Linked DNA regions of Homo sapiens: region 2 is linked to region 1. Evidence: fine-mapped expression QTL. Tissue or cell type: whole blood. Region 1 holds a variant in brackets; the other region holds the start of a gene. All regions are shown on one strand. Distances are from middle to middle.

Region 1 (8,355 bases):
GCCCAGCTGGTAACTTGTTAATTAAAGAATTATATGTCCATCGAGTGTGCCCATTAGAAATGATGATTTATATTTCTACCTTATATTTATGATGAGGAAAAATATCTATGGGATATTGTTAAGTGACAAAAACAGGTTACATAGTAGCATGTGTATGATCCCATTTATATCAGGTTTTATACAGAGATCACTATATATATGTACACATAGGCATCAGGGAGAAATTTCATCAAAATATTTTTATTCATTTATTTATTTTATTTTTGTATTTTTAGTAGAGACAGGGTTTCACCATGTTGGCCTGGCTGATCTTGAACTCCTGACCTCAAGTGATCCACCCGACTAGGCCTCCAAAAGTGTTGGGATGACAGGCGTGAGCCACCGCACCCACTATTTTATTTATATATGTATTTTTGAGACAGGGTCTCACTCTGTTGCCCAGGCTGGAGCACAATAGAGCAATCACGGCTACCAGCAGCCTCGAACTCCTGGGCTCAAGTGAGCCTCCTGCCTCAGCCTCCCCAGTAGCTGGGACTATAGGAGCATGCCACTAAGTCTGGCTAATTTTTAAATTTTTCTTTTGTAGAAATAGGGTCTATGTTACCCAGGCTGATTTCAAACTCCTGGCCTCAAGCTATCCTCCTCCCACTTCAGCCTCCCAAAGTGTTGGGATTACAGGCATCAGCCACCATGCCCAGCCCAAAATATTTTAAGTGTTCATCTCTTCATGTGAGGTGATTTTTAATTTCCTCTCTCTATATTTTTTCAATTATTTACACTTTTTCTGGAGTGTTCATTGTATCACTTTTACCCAAAAACTATTGAAAAAAGCATTCAAGTGATTTATTTAGTTACTCTTTGTCTCAACAAATATTTGTTGTTGATTGCACCAACTATCCTAGAATTACCTCTCCTGTTTTAAAGACTGCAAGATTTTCTGTGCATAATAGGAGAAAGCACTGAAGCTAAGTACTTATACTTATCAAGGCTCCTTTTGAAAAATTTAAGCACCAGAAAAAAAAAAAATCAGAACAGTAGTTGTCTCTGGAAAGGGTAGGAGTGGTGACTAACAGGGAAGGAGTATGAAGGAACTTTTTAGGATGATGGTAATGTTCTGTATCTTTATAGAGGTTTGGGTTATAGAGGACAATGCATTTGTCAAAACTCAGCAAATTTACCAAATTTACTCTTGTATTTTTTTGTTTTGTTTTGTTTCGTTTTGTTTTGTTTTTGAGACAGGGTACTCACTCTGTTGCCCAGGCTGGAGTGCAGTGGCGTGATCTCAGCTCACTGCAAACTTCGCCTCCTGGGTTCAAACAATTCTCCCGCCTCCTGAGTAGCAGGGAGTACAGGCATGTGCCACCATGACCGGCTAATTTTTATATTTTCAGTAGAGACAGGGTTTCACTAGTTTCACTATGTTAGCCAGGCTGGTCTCAGGTTCCTGGCCTCAAGTGATCCACCCACCTTGGCCTCCCAGAATGCTGGGATAACAGGCGTGAGACACCTTGCCCAGCCAGCAAATAGTTACTGTTAAGATTTGTGCATTCTTCTGTATATCAATTTACATCAAAAGGAGAAAGAATCAAACAAATTTGGCTTTAGTTAGTGATATTGATATCTGGAATTTACTTTGAAATGCACCAAAAATAAGACAGATTGATTAATAAATGGATAGATATATAATAAGGGAGGCAGGTGTGGAGGCTCATGCCTATAACCCCAGCGCTTTGGGAGGCTGAGGCAGGTGGACTGCTTGAGCCCAGGAGTTCAAGACCAGCCTGGGCAACAGAGCGAGACCCCATCTCTTGAAAAATACATATGTATATACATATAAAATAAAGCAAATATAATAAAATGTTAATAATAGAATCTAGGTGGTTTGTATACATGTGCTCGCTAAGAAATTCTTATAATTTTTGTTTTAAAATTTTCATAACAACATGTTGAGAAAAATATGTCTCAATCATCTATTGATATACTGCATGTATACATATTTTATCCTTATACACTAAATTCCACATACTGAATTTTGAAAGTTGCTCCCAAGAAAGATTCAGCCTGTTTACATAGGTAAGCTATGCAAAAGCACATATGTACATATAACATAACTAGTGAAAGGGCTGTCTTTGTAAGCATGCGAACTGTGCAGTTACACAGGGCCCTCCCTTGGTTTAATACTTTACTGTTTTGATTTTTTTTTTTTTTTTTTTGAGATGGAGTTTTGCTCCTGTTGCCCAGGCTAGAGTGCAATGGCACGATCTCGGCTCACTGCAACCTCCACCTCCCGGATTCAAGCGATTCTCCTGCCTCAGCCTCCTGAGCAGCTGGGATTACAGGCATGCGCCACCACGCCCGACTGATTTTGTATTTTTAGTAGAGATGGGGTTTCTCCACGTTGGTCAGGCTGGTCTTGAACTCCCAACCTCAGGTGATCCACCCGCCTCAGCCTCCCAAAGTGCTGGGATTACGGGTGTGAGCCACCGTGCCCAGCCAAAGTTTTTTTTTTTTTTTGGAGACAGAGTCTCACTCTGTCGCCCAGGATATAGTGCAGTGGCCCGATCTCGGCTCACTGCAACCTCCACCTCCCAGGTTCAAGCGATTCTCCTTTCTCAGCCTCCTGAGTAGCTGGGACTATGGGGGCCCACCACCACGCCTGGCTAATTTTTGTATTTTTAGTAAACACGGGGTTTTGCCATGTTGGCCAGGGTCTCAAACTCCTGACCCTGTGATTCGTCTGCCTCAGCCTCCCAAGGTGCTGGGATTACAGGCATGAGCCACCATGCCTGGCTTGAAATTCTTAATAATCTTTTAACAAGAAGCCCTGCATTTTTATTTTGCTCTGGGCCCTGTAAATTATGTAGCCAGTCTTGATTAGTGAATAAAAATATTACTAATATATATTATGTTCTCCCTATGCCAGGCACTATGTTAAACATTTTGCATTCATAATCTCATTGAATCTTCAAAGAAAGACTAAAGGGGTAGGTAATATTAATATTCCCATTTTCCAGCTGAACATATTGAGGCTCAAAGAAGTTAAGCTACTTTTCAACTTCACACATTTATTATACCCTCAGTATGCATGGTAGCACAGTATACTTAGTAGGCACTCAATAAATGTTTACTGAATAAATAGTAATAATAGCAGCTCCCATTTATTGAGCACCTTCCATGAGCCTAGAATGCCTCAACTGAAAGATGACATGCTCTCCCCTAACCCAGACTCCCCAGCTTTTGCATCACTTCCTCAAAGCCACATTCCTTGACACCCTAAATGAGGTCAGGTCTCTTTTTATGGTACCCTAGGCTTCGTGATAGCATTCATCACAATTGAAGTTAGGTAGTTCTTTAATTCCTGCCTTCCCTTCTAGATTGAAATCTCAGTGAAGACAGTGACTCATTTTCATCCCTTCACTCCTTTATTCCCAGCACCAAGTGCTATACCTGAAGCATAGCCTGCCTTCTGCCAGTGCTTGATTATGTATTTTCTCATTTAATCCTCAACTCTGTGAAGTAAAATTGTTACCATCATTTTACATGTGAAGAAACTAAGGCTCAGAGAAGTGAAGTCCCAGTCATCCCACTTTGCAGGAAGAGTCCCATCATCGTGTGGACCTACATCTGTTTGGCTCCAAAACCTCTCATCATTTCACTACAGCCCACTGTTACCGCGTGACAAACAATCTGCTTGATGTTATTTTCTATCCCTAGGCACAACTTATT[C/G]CTTTAATATCTCTTCCAGCTTCTATTTTTGCTATCTGACCTCCAGGCTCTCTAATGAAACTGAGACATGCTTTCCAACAAGCAATCACGGCAAGTGATATTATAAACAAGCTGGCTGAAGCCAGGATTTTATTTTTTAACCTTGATGAGTGAACCAGCTGGAAACACTACATTTAAAAGCAAAGGCTATAATTTCCTTTTAGTACCGATTCCTCCCTTGTCCTGGGAGATACCCTGAAGCTGCCTCTTGGGTTTTGTCATTGCAAAGCCATCACCAACGTCCAGTTGTAGGTGAAGGCCTGAAATAACTGAGGTAAAACAAATGAAGGCCGGACATGGTGGCTCAGGCCTGTAATCCCAGCACTTTGGAAGGCTGAGGCAGGTGGATCAGCTGAGGCCAGGAGCTTGAGACCTGCCTGGCCAACATGGCAAAACCCCATCTCTAATAAAAATACCCGCCCCCCGGCCTCCGCAAAATTGGCCGGGCATAGTTGTGCATGCCTGTAGTCCCAGATCTCTGGGAGACTGAGGCAAGAGGATCACTTGAACCTGGGAGGTGGAGGTTGCAATGAGCCAAGATTGCGCCACTGCATTCCAGCCTGGACGACAGAGCAAGACTCCATCTCAAAACAAACAAATGAAGATGCTTCAGGCTGCTAATAAGGTATCTTTTAGTAGTTGTCTGCCTCTATATATTGATTTCTATAAAGAAATGTTTCTCCGTAAGTATGGATCTAGATTGTCCTATGCTTGTGCACTACTGGATATCTTTTTTTTTTTTTTTTGAAACAGAGTCTCACTCTGTCACCCAGGCTGGAGTGCAGTGATGCAATCTCGGCTCACTGCAACCTCCTGGGTTCAAGCAATTCTCCTGCCTCAGGCTCCCAAGTAGCTGGGATTACATGCACACACCACCACATCCGGATAATTTTTGTTTTTATTAGAGATGGAGTTTCACCATGTTGGCCAGGGTGGTCTTGAACTCCTGACCTCAGGTGATCCTCCTGCCTCGGCCTCCCAAAGTGCTGGGATTACAGGCATGAGCCACTGTGCCTGGCTCATTACTGGATATCTTTACAGAGCTGAGAGGCCTGTTCTTTAGACACTTATTTATGAGGGTCATGGAAGTGGGATGGAGAGGAATGCTGAGAGAGTGTGCAGGCTTGTTTTCTTCAGCCAATGCTGGAGGAGAAACTGTAAACAAGAAATGGAGGGCACTTGGCCCAGCACTTTATGACATGGATTGTTGAGTTCCACCTGTGGTGTTAAAGACTGAAAATCCCAGACCTCAGGAATTGGACTGATGACAGACTGTGTTGTATTATGTCTTTTGTAGGGCATAGGACAAGAGGACAGCCTCTGATGATGGTAGAGTTTCCAGAAGTCCTGCGTTTCTGCCATTCTGATAGTGAGTTTAGACTGTGGACCTTTCATAGCAGCCACTGCTAACAGCAGTATAGGTTACCCTGTCTATTACACTTTCTGTAAACAAAAGTCAAAACCTGTTAACAATCACAGCTTGGCCTCGGTTGTGTTCTTGGGCTTATTTCACTTTCTTGGAAGAATATCAAATACTTCCCAAATTCAGTGGTGGAAGCAATGGTGACAGTCATCAGTGCAGGAGAACGGTGCTCACTGGAGCTACATTCTGATTAGGATGAGAGAGCAGCACTCCGGCAGATCCAGAAGGTTGTGATAGAACAAGAACTGTTCCTGAAAACAGGAGAGGTGTATCAGAAATACGGGAGGAGGAAGAGATTGTTTTCTCTAGGAAATGTGCCATGAGGGCTTAAGTCATCATAATTTGAACATTAAAAGTATGAGTTTAGACTGGGAGTGGTGGCTCACACCTGTAATCCCAGCACTTTGGGAGGCCAAGGTGGCTGGATCACCTAAGGTCGGGAGTTCGAGACCAGCCAGACTAACATGGAGAAACCTCGTCTCTACTAAAAATACAAAATTAGCCAGGCGTGATGGCACATGCCTGTAATCCCAGCTACTCAGGAGGCTGAGACAGGAGAATTGCTTGAACCCGGGAGGCGGAGGTTGCAGTGAGCCGAGATCACGCCATTGCACTCCAGCCTGGGCAACAAGGGCGAAACTCCGTCTCAAAAAAAAAAAAAAAAAAAAGTAGGATTTTAATATCCAAAATATATAAGGAACTCAAACAACTTAATAGCAAGAAAACAACCTAATTAAAAAATGTCAAAGGACCTAAATAGATATTTCTCAGAAGAAGACATACAAATGGTCAATAGGTACATGAAAAAATGTTCAGCATCACTAATCATCAGAAGAATGCCAATTAAAACCACAAGGAGATATCGTCTCCCACCTGTTAGAATGGCTGTCAACAAAAAGATGAAAGGTTACAAGTGTTAGAGATGATGTGGAGAAAAGGGTACCCTTGTATACTGTTAGTGGGAATGCAAATTAGTGTAGCCATTATGGAAAAGAGTAAGAAGTTTCCTTGAAGAACTAAAAATATAACTACCATATGATCAAGCAATCCTACTTCTGGAGATATATCCAAAGGAATTGAAACCAGTTTGTGAAAGAGATATCTGCACTCCCATCCTCATTACTCACATTATTCACAATAATTGTACTGAATTATTCAGCATTATTCACAATAACAAAGATAGAGAATCAATCTTGTCCATCAATGGATGAATGGATAAAGAAAATGTGCTATGTATACACAATGGCCTTTAAAAAGAAATACTGCCATTTGCCACAACATGGATGAACCTAGAGGACATTATTTTAAGTGAAATAAGCCAGGCACAGAAAGGCAAGTACTGCACGATCTGACTTTTATGTGGAATCACATAGCAGTAGACAGTAGAATGGTGGTTAACTCACAGTAGCAGACAGACAGTAGGATGGTGGTTAACTCACAGTAGGAGACAGACAATAGCATGGTGGTTAACTGAGGGTTGGTTGCAGGGAGAGGGAAAAGGGAGATGTTGGTCAAAGGGTAGAACGTTTTGGCTAGACAGGAGGAATAAGTTTTTAGGATCTATTGCACAACATGGTGACTATAATTAATAGTAATGTAATGTATATTTCAAAATTGCTGAGAGTAAATTTTAAATGTTCACACCACAAAAAATGATGAAAATGTGAGGTGATAGATGTGTTAATTAGCTTGATTTAATCATTTGATAATGCATACATCACATCGTACCTCACAAATATTTATAATTATTATTTGTCAACTAAAATTTTTAAAAAATTAAGGCTGGGAGCAGTGGCTCACACCTGTTACCCCAGCACTTTGGGAGGCAGAGGCAGGTGGATCACTTGAGCCCAGGAGTTTGAGACCACCTCATGTCTATGAAAAATAAAAAAATTAGCCAGGCCTGGTGGTGCATGCCTGTAGTCCCAGCTACTCAGGAGGATGAGGTGGGAGGATCACTTGTGCCCAGAAAGCTGAGCCTGCAGTGAGCCATGTTCGTGCCACTGTACTCCAGCCTGGGTGACAGAGTGAGACTCTGTCTCAAAAAAAAAAAAAAAAAAAAATAGGTCTAATCTTATTTTGTAGTCACTGGCTAGTGAGATATGATGTATAATTGAGTCACTGTATATGAGAGCCAGTCTCTAAGATGACTCTCAATGATTCTCACTTTCTAGTATTAATGTCCTTATGTTGTCTTCTTCCACAATGAATTAGGGCTAGTCTATGTGAACAAGAGCATGGCTGAGGTTACAGGGGGTGACTTCCAAGGGTAGACTGTAAAGGACTTGCTACTCCCACTTTAGTCTCTTGGATAGCTTACTCTGGGGGAGGCCAGCAATCATCTCATGAGGACTCTCCAACAACTTTGTAGAGGGGCCCACTAGGGGACGAACTGCGGCTTCCACCAGTATTGTGCACAGACTTACCAGCTGTGTGAGTAAGCCATTGGAAGTGGATCTTCCAGCCCCATTCAAGTCTTCAAATGACTGCAGACTTGGTTAACGTCTGACTGAACCCCACGAAAAACCCCTAACTAGAACTGCCCAGTCAAGTGGCTCCCAAATTCCTGACCTGTAGAAACTGTGACAGATAATAAATGTTTATATTTAAGTTAAGCCACTAAGTTTGGGGTTAATGTGTTATGCAGCAATAGATAATTAAAACACTATACTATAGATTCTACAGAATAAATGTCTATATAAAACTGCCTTTGGGAGGCCGAGGTGGGCGGATCACCTGAGGTCAGGAGTTTGAGACCAGCCTGGCCAACGTGGTGAAACCCCGTCTCTACTAAAAATACAAAAATTAGCTGGGCATGGTGGCGCACGCTTGTAATCCCGGCTACTCGGAAGGCTGAGGCAGGAGAATCGCTTGAACCTAGGAGGCGGAGGTGTCAGTGAGCCGAGATCGTGCCATTGCACTCCAACCTGGGCAACATCAAAAAAAAAACAAAAACAAAAACAAAATACTGCCTAAAGAGGCCAGGAAGGTCTTCAGTAAAAAAAGAGGACATGAGTTGAGTCTTCAGGGATGACTAGAGGCTTGCAGGTATGGAATTAGGGTGGAGAAAAGGAAGTCATTTCAGGCTGAAGGAACAGCTTGACCACAGTAAGAGGGCATGGCCTATTTGAAAAACAGCAATTAGTTCAGCATGACTCGGATGCAGT
Region 2 (6,460 bases), 140 kb after region 1:
AAAATAAAATAAAATAACCAGAGATGAGGAAAACATACTACCTAGTGTAGTATGTTATGAGTACATGCTTTTGAGCCTGGGCAACTTTATACAACACTGTGTTCAAAAGCGATGATTAAATGAAGTACATGGCTTAGCAAGTGATCAATAAACTATAGCAATTTTTCTTGTAGGGCTCAATTTCCTCATTTTTAAAAATAAGAAAGATTCTCTTCTGGGTTTGTATTGATGAAAGGTGAATAGAAAAATATTTTATTTTTAAAATATTTTTTAAAATAGAAATGGCATCTCACTATATTGCCAAGGCTGGTCTGGAACTTCTGGGCTCAAGTGAGTCTCCCATCTTGGCCTCCCAACATGCTGGGATTACAGGTGTGAGCCACCATGCCTGACCTAGAAAAATAAAATAAAATAAAAATAAATTTGGGGTCTGGGCACGGTGGCTCACACCTCTACTACCAACACTTTGGGAGGCCAAGGCGAGTAGATCGCCTGAGCTCAGCAGCTGGATACCAGCTTGGGCAACATGCTGGTCTCTACAAAACGCCAACTCTACCAAAAATACATAAAATAGCTGGGCATGGTGGAATATGTCTGTGGTCCCAGCTACTTGGGAGGCTGAGGCAGGAGGAAAAAGGGAGGGGAGGGGAAGGGAGAGGAGGGAAAAGGGAAGGGAAAAGGGAACAGAAGGGGGAAGGGAGGGGAAAAGGGAAAGGAAAGGAAGGGGAGGGAAGGATGAAGGAAAGAAAAGAAAGAGAAAGAAAGAAAAGAAAGGAAAGAAAGAAAAAGAAAAGAGAAAAGAAAAGAATTTGGCCGGGAACAGTGGCTCAGGCCCATAATCCCAGTACTTTGGGAGGCCAAGGCAGACAGATTGGTTGAGCTCAGGAGTTTGAGACCAGCCTTGGCAACATAGCAAAACCCTGTCTCTACAAAAAATAACACTACTTAGCCAATGTGGTGGTGTACCTGTAGTCCCAGCTACTTTGGGGGCTGAGGTGGGAGGATCACTTGATCCCAGGAGGTTGAGTAAGCCGAGATGATGCCACTGTACTTCAGCTTGGGTGACAAAGTGAGACCCTGTCTCAAATAAATAAATAAATAAATGTAAGAAGGTAGTATAGTGTAGTGGTTAAGAGTGTTAATGGCTGGGTGCACTGGCTCACACCTGTAATCCCAACACTTTGGAGGCTGAGGTGGAAGGATTGCTTGGGCCCAGGAGTTCCAGACAGGCCTGGGCAACATAGCCAGAATCCACTTATTTATTAAAAAAAAAAAAAAAAAAAGAGTGTAAATACCAGTTAATACCAGAAGAAATGGGTTCTTATAGCTGTTCCACTGCTTTTAGCTGTGTGACCTTGGGCAGAATATTTAATCTCTCTGACCCTGATTATTTTTATCTGTACAATAGAGATATTACAGTCTGCCATTAACATCCTGTTTTGTAATTTACATTAGCCACTTGATGTGTAGTGTATTCTTACTGAAAAATCTGTTTTGACAACTTTTGTTTTGGTTCAGGTTTTGGAGGCTAGAGATGGAGAACAGAATTCTTTCGATTTATTTTGCATAACTAAACAGAAAACATGGATTAAGATTTGGAATAAGTTACAGGGAGGAGGGCTCATACGGTTTGTCTTTTGAATTTAAGAAGACCCTAAGAATTAGTTGAAGATTGTTTTAAGGAATTCTACTATATAAAACTAAAAACAGACATAAGGCCTAAAGTGTGAAAGGAAAATAAATCTTGGGGCCTCCACCTCACTAAGCTAAAGAGAAAAGTCAAGCTGGGAACTGCTTAGGGCCAACCTGCCTCCCATTCTTTAAAAAGTCACCCCTCTGCTCACTGAGATAAACGCATATCTGACTGCCTCCTTTGGAGAGGCTAATCAGAAACTCAAAGGAATGCAACCATTTGTCTCTTATCTATCTATGCCCTGGAAGCTCCCTCCCCACTCAGAGTCTTCCTGCCTTTGCTTTGAGTTGTCCAGTCTTTCCAGAATGAACCAATGTTCATCTTACATATATTGATTGATGTCTCATTTCTCCCTAGAATGTATAAAACCAAACCGTGCTCTGATCACCTTGGGCACATGTCTACAAGACCTCCTGAGGCTATGTCATGGACGCGTGTCCTCAACTTTGGCAAAATTAACTTTCTAAATTAACTGAGGCCTGTCTCATATTTTGGGGGTTCACAAAAGGATACAAGAAGGTCTTGTCACTTAGCAAGCTTCCAAAATGCAATTTTGAGTTATTCAACTGCTAAGCAACTCTTTACATGTATCTCCAATGCAAAGGAGGGTACTTCTGAGTAAAGAAGTTTTTGGGGTTTTTTTGTTGTTGTTGTTTGTTTTTTTAAGACAGTCTCGCTCTGTCGCCCAGGCTGGAGTGCAGGGGCGCGATCTCCGCTCACTGCAACCTCCGCCTCCCGGGTTCACGCCATTCTTCTGCCTCAGCCTCCGGAGTAGCTGGGAGTATAGGCACCCGCCACCACGCCCGGTTAATTTATTCTATTTTTAGTAGAGACTGGGTTTCACCGTGTTAGCCAGGATGGTCTCGATCTCCTGACCTCGTAATCTGCCCGCCTCGGCCTCCCAAAGTGCTGGGATTACAGGCATGAGCCACTATGCCCGGCCAGAAGTTTTTGCTTTTAATTGCCCAGGGCCACTCCTAAGAAATAACAGTCTCTGAAGGGTAGATAAGGTAGTGCTACCAAGAGAAGCGTTACTCAGCAAGCCTTCAAAAATATAAAAATAACTTACTGTTTCTGAAAGTTTGCAAGTTTTTCTTATTCAACCCCATCCTATGGAAATATACCAGTTGGAATAAGCAACTACAGAACCACATAGGACGGCACTACTAGAAAAATAGATTAAATCTTTATCCTGGCAATGAGTCTAATACATTTATCATTGCTGTGAATTTTAAAAGGTGTAGCAGGCCGGGCGCGGTGAGTCACCGCGCCAGGCCCGATCATAAACACTTTTAAAGTGAAGAGGCTTTCCGCTTCCTCAACATAAGGAGTAAATCTTTAATGCTGCTTCTAGGAAAAAAAGTACAAGAAAAGCAAGACTTCCTCCTTGCCTTCTCTTTAAAAAGCAACAGCCGATGAACACGTGTTGGAGCGCTCTCGCCTTGACAGAATTAGAGATCTTCAGAATCACTTGGCGTGGTGGTCGAAGCGTCTAGCCCTAGCTCATTAGGGTGCCACAGTTTCTCGGCCCACAAGTCAGCTTTTAACCACTTTTCTCCGCAAAAGACCGGACCGGTCTTCATGCGTCAACTAAAGCAAGCGTCTGGTCCCGTGTGTGAAACGTGTAAGTTCATGGCATCAGGGAATACCCATCGCGCGTACCGTAATAGAAGAGGGCGAGGTTCCTCACCTAACCCATAATGCTCAGCTCGCCTTTCCGGAAGCAAGGACTATCACCCCGACAATACCTTCATCCGGGCGGAAGCGTCTCACCCTGAGTCTGATTTGGCAGTGACGAAGCGAGGTATTGTGGGACTTTGTCCGTCTCCCAGTACGCATGTGCCTCAGCCGGCCTCTCCCGGCTCCTGGGGCCACGTCCGGGCGGTGGCGCCGTCGAGAGATGCTCGTCAGCGAAACTGGCCAATCCCCTGCAGGCGCAAGCGCAGTGGCTCGGGCGCACCGGAAGCGCAGGGGGATGGGGCGGCGGTGACGCGATTCTGTCCGCGTTGGAGGGGCCGGGCCGCTGCTGGAGTCGCCGCGGCCGCCGCGTGACGTGGCACAGCCAGAGCCTAAAGGCTAGAGCCGGAGCTGCCGCGCCAGTCGCCTAGCAGGTCCTCTACCGGCTTATTCCTGTGCCGGATCTTCATCGGCACAGGGGCCACTGAGACGTTTCTGCCTCCCTCTTTCTTCCTCCGCTCTTTCTCTTCCCTCTCGTTTAGTTTGCCTGGGAGCTTGAAAGGAGAAAGCACGGGGTCGCCCCAAACCCCTTCTGCTTCTGCCCATCACAAGTGCCACTACCGCCATGGGCCTCACTATCTCCTCCCTCTTCTCCCGACTATTTGGCAAGAAGCAGATGCGCATTTTGATGGGTGAGTGAGGGGCTGCGAGTCAGGCGGGACCTGGGAAAGGCAGGGTCTCCACAATTGGGGTGGCCTCTGGGCCTGTTTTTTTCCTCCGCCCGCTGTGGTGGGGGAGGGGCGCCGGGTCGGGGGTCGGAAGGAATTCTTAAGGGGGAACAATGGAGCGGAGGGTGAGCGATCCCCCCCGCCCCCGATCTGTCGCCAGACGAGACAGGGACAGGGCTTCGGGCAAGATTTCTTTCTGGACTCGGCTTTTTCTCCTTGATCTTATTGAAAGCTGGACAACATTGGGCAGAGATGTGGGGAAAGCCAACTCTGGGAAGCAAACACTTGGCGAGGCCCTTTCTGGGGGTGCGATCTGCATACCTTCTTGCCCGGGTGTGGACAGCGGTCAGGAGGGAGGCAGAGCAACTCCAGCCTTTTCCCTCCCCTTCTGCGTTTCGTGTACAGTCCCTGCATACTCCATTGGTATGTAAGCCAGCGGCCACCCGGAGCCTGGAGCCGCCCGGGGCAGGAAGTTGCGGTGGCCAGGGAGCACCCAAGGTTTCCGAAGAGTCTGGAGTCCTTCAGCGCTCACTTTGCTAAACTTGGCCTTGCGCTGGATTCCGTTTCAAGTTTTTCGCTCCTTGTTAATCTCATTCTCCGAAAACTGAGCTTATCTTCTATTTCTTTGACTATTTTCAAAAACTTTAAATGTGTTTGGTTTATTCTCCTAGGTTTTTAAGCTTATTTTTAGGCGGTCTAAGGTCTAATGCAAAAAAATTTTAGAAACGAATTTTTAAAAAATACCTGATAAATTTTCAAGTAACTGAACATCATGACGCTGAATTTTATGGTAGTCTTGTTAAATAGTAACTACAATTTTTTTAAAATTTCTTTTTAGAAAGTTGACTTTTTAAAAACTACTTTTTAGGGGGCGTGTTTTTGCTCAGCTGAGGGAGAAGGGCTGTCAGTTGGCTGAAGTAAGCAACCGCTCCCGGTTACTGTAAGCAGTCTACATCACAGCTGAGCTCCATGGACTAGAATAACGCTGAAAGAAGCCCCTCTAACTTTGAACGTTGAAACTTGTTGGTTCATTAGCTTGTTTTCTACCGGAGGAGGTTTTATTTTTCTCTTCCTTTTTTTTTTTTGCAGACGGAGTTTTGCTCTTGTCACCCAGGCTGGAGTGCAGTGGCGCAATCTCGGCTCACTGCAACCTCCACCTCCCGGGTTCAAGAGATTCTCCTGCCTCAGCCTCCCGAGTAGCTGGGATTACAGGCATGCAACACCACGCCTGGCTAATTTTTTGTATTATTAGTAGAGACGGGGGTTTCACCACGTTGGCCAGTCTGGTCTCGAACTCCTCACCTCAGGTGATCCACCCACCCAGGCTTCCCAGAGTGCTGGGATTACAGGCGTGAGCCACCGCGCCCGGCCGGAGGTTTTATTTTAGAGCTGTACTACCATCAAAACTTGCAAACACAAGCTTCTGTAATATTTCAAGGTATATAAAGAGTAACAGTATATACATTGGCTCATGTTTATTTTCCTCTTAGCGTACTTACACTTTGTGAATCAATTGTTTATGAGTCATTCATAAAGTATTTTTTCTTTCAAAGTTTCTTAGATTTCCTTTGTCAAGAGGACAGAATTATTTTAGGAGGGCAAGCATATTTAAGTTTTCAGTGGCTGAAAGTTGGCAGTCTGAAAAAGGATCGGAAGTTAATGGGAGGACTTCGGACTGTGATAAATGAATTTCCAGTCTGTTCGTTAAAGAGATTTAACAATATATGGTTATGTTCCAGAACACATAGTATATTGGTCTTTTTACTTAAGATTTATTGTAAATGAATTGCTATTTTTCAATTCCTTAGTCTTTTGTGATTGATGAAAGTATCAGAGGGGCAAGGAATATAGAAGTATGCTACCAGCATTTTCATATATTTACTATATTGGGAGGCATTTCCCTCCACCCCAAAAAATGATTCGAAGAAAATGGGAGAGAAAAAATATTTAAGTTTCTGCATTTGTGTGGAGGATTTAGGAGTTACTTGTTTTTAATGTTTTATTACTCAGGCATGCTATCGTTTTGCACTTTAATTTTGGGATAATCAGTTTTCCTTGACTAAAAAACACTTCAGTCACAAGATCGACATTTATGGTAACTCATCAAAGGAAGTATCAACGTACGAGGGAGATATGTGCATGAACAGGGAAAAAGGTGGTTTGGAAGTTTGATAATTCTTACATTTTTCTGTCTGGCTTTATGAGTGACTGACAGCAAAAATAATAGATCACTTTTAAAGTGTCTGCCCCATTCAACTGTTGGAATTATTAATGTTTTACATTAGTGTGCTTCGTTTTTCTTTATAAAGCTTAGATAAGATTCATGCCCTCCTGAGTCAGTGTTTTATTCAGACTTTACCAT

What was found. PIP is the estimated chance that this variant, and not a neighbour inherited with it, causes the effect.
Region 2: it holds the start of ARF4, and the variant in region 1 is fine-mapped to the expression of ARF4 in whole blood (INTERVAL, PIP 0.96).

What each region holds. Positions count from the first base shown.
Region 1 is chr3:57,733,986-57,742,340 of GRCh38, reverse strand. No RefSeq gene overlaps it. Among named protein-coding and RNA genes, the nearest start is that of SLMAP, 18 kb to the left of the region's middle. The variant C/G (reference allele first, on the strand shown) is at 3,727.
Region 2 is chr3:57,594,676-57,601,135 of GRCh38, reverse strand. ARF4 (ARF GTPase 4) reads left to right here and starts at 3,792. Exons shown (of 6, transcript NM_001660.4): 1 at 3,792-4,062. The coding sequence starts at 3,996. ARF4-AS1 (ARF4 antisense RNA 1) reads right to left here and starts at 3,347. Exons shown (of 2, transcript NR_132370.1): 1 at 3,085-3,347; 2 at 220-393. It also overlaps a transcript of PDE12 not described here. RefSeq lists enhancers at 2,769-3,474, 2,989-3,548, 3,569-3,818, 3,829-3,898, 4,089-4,138 and 4 more.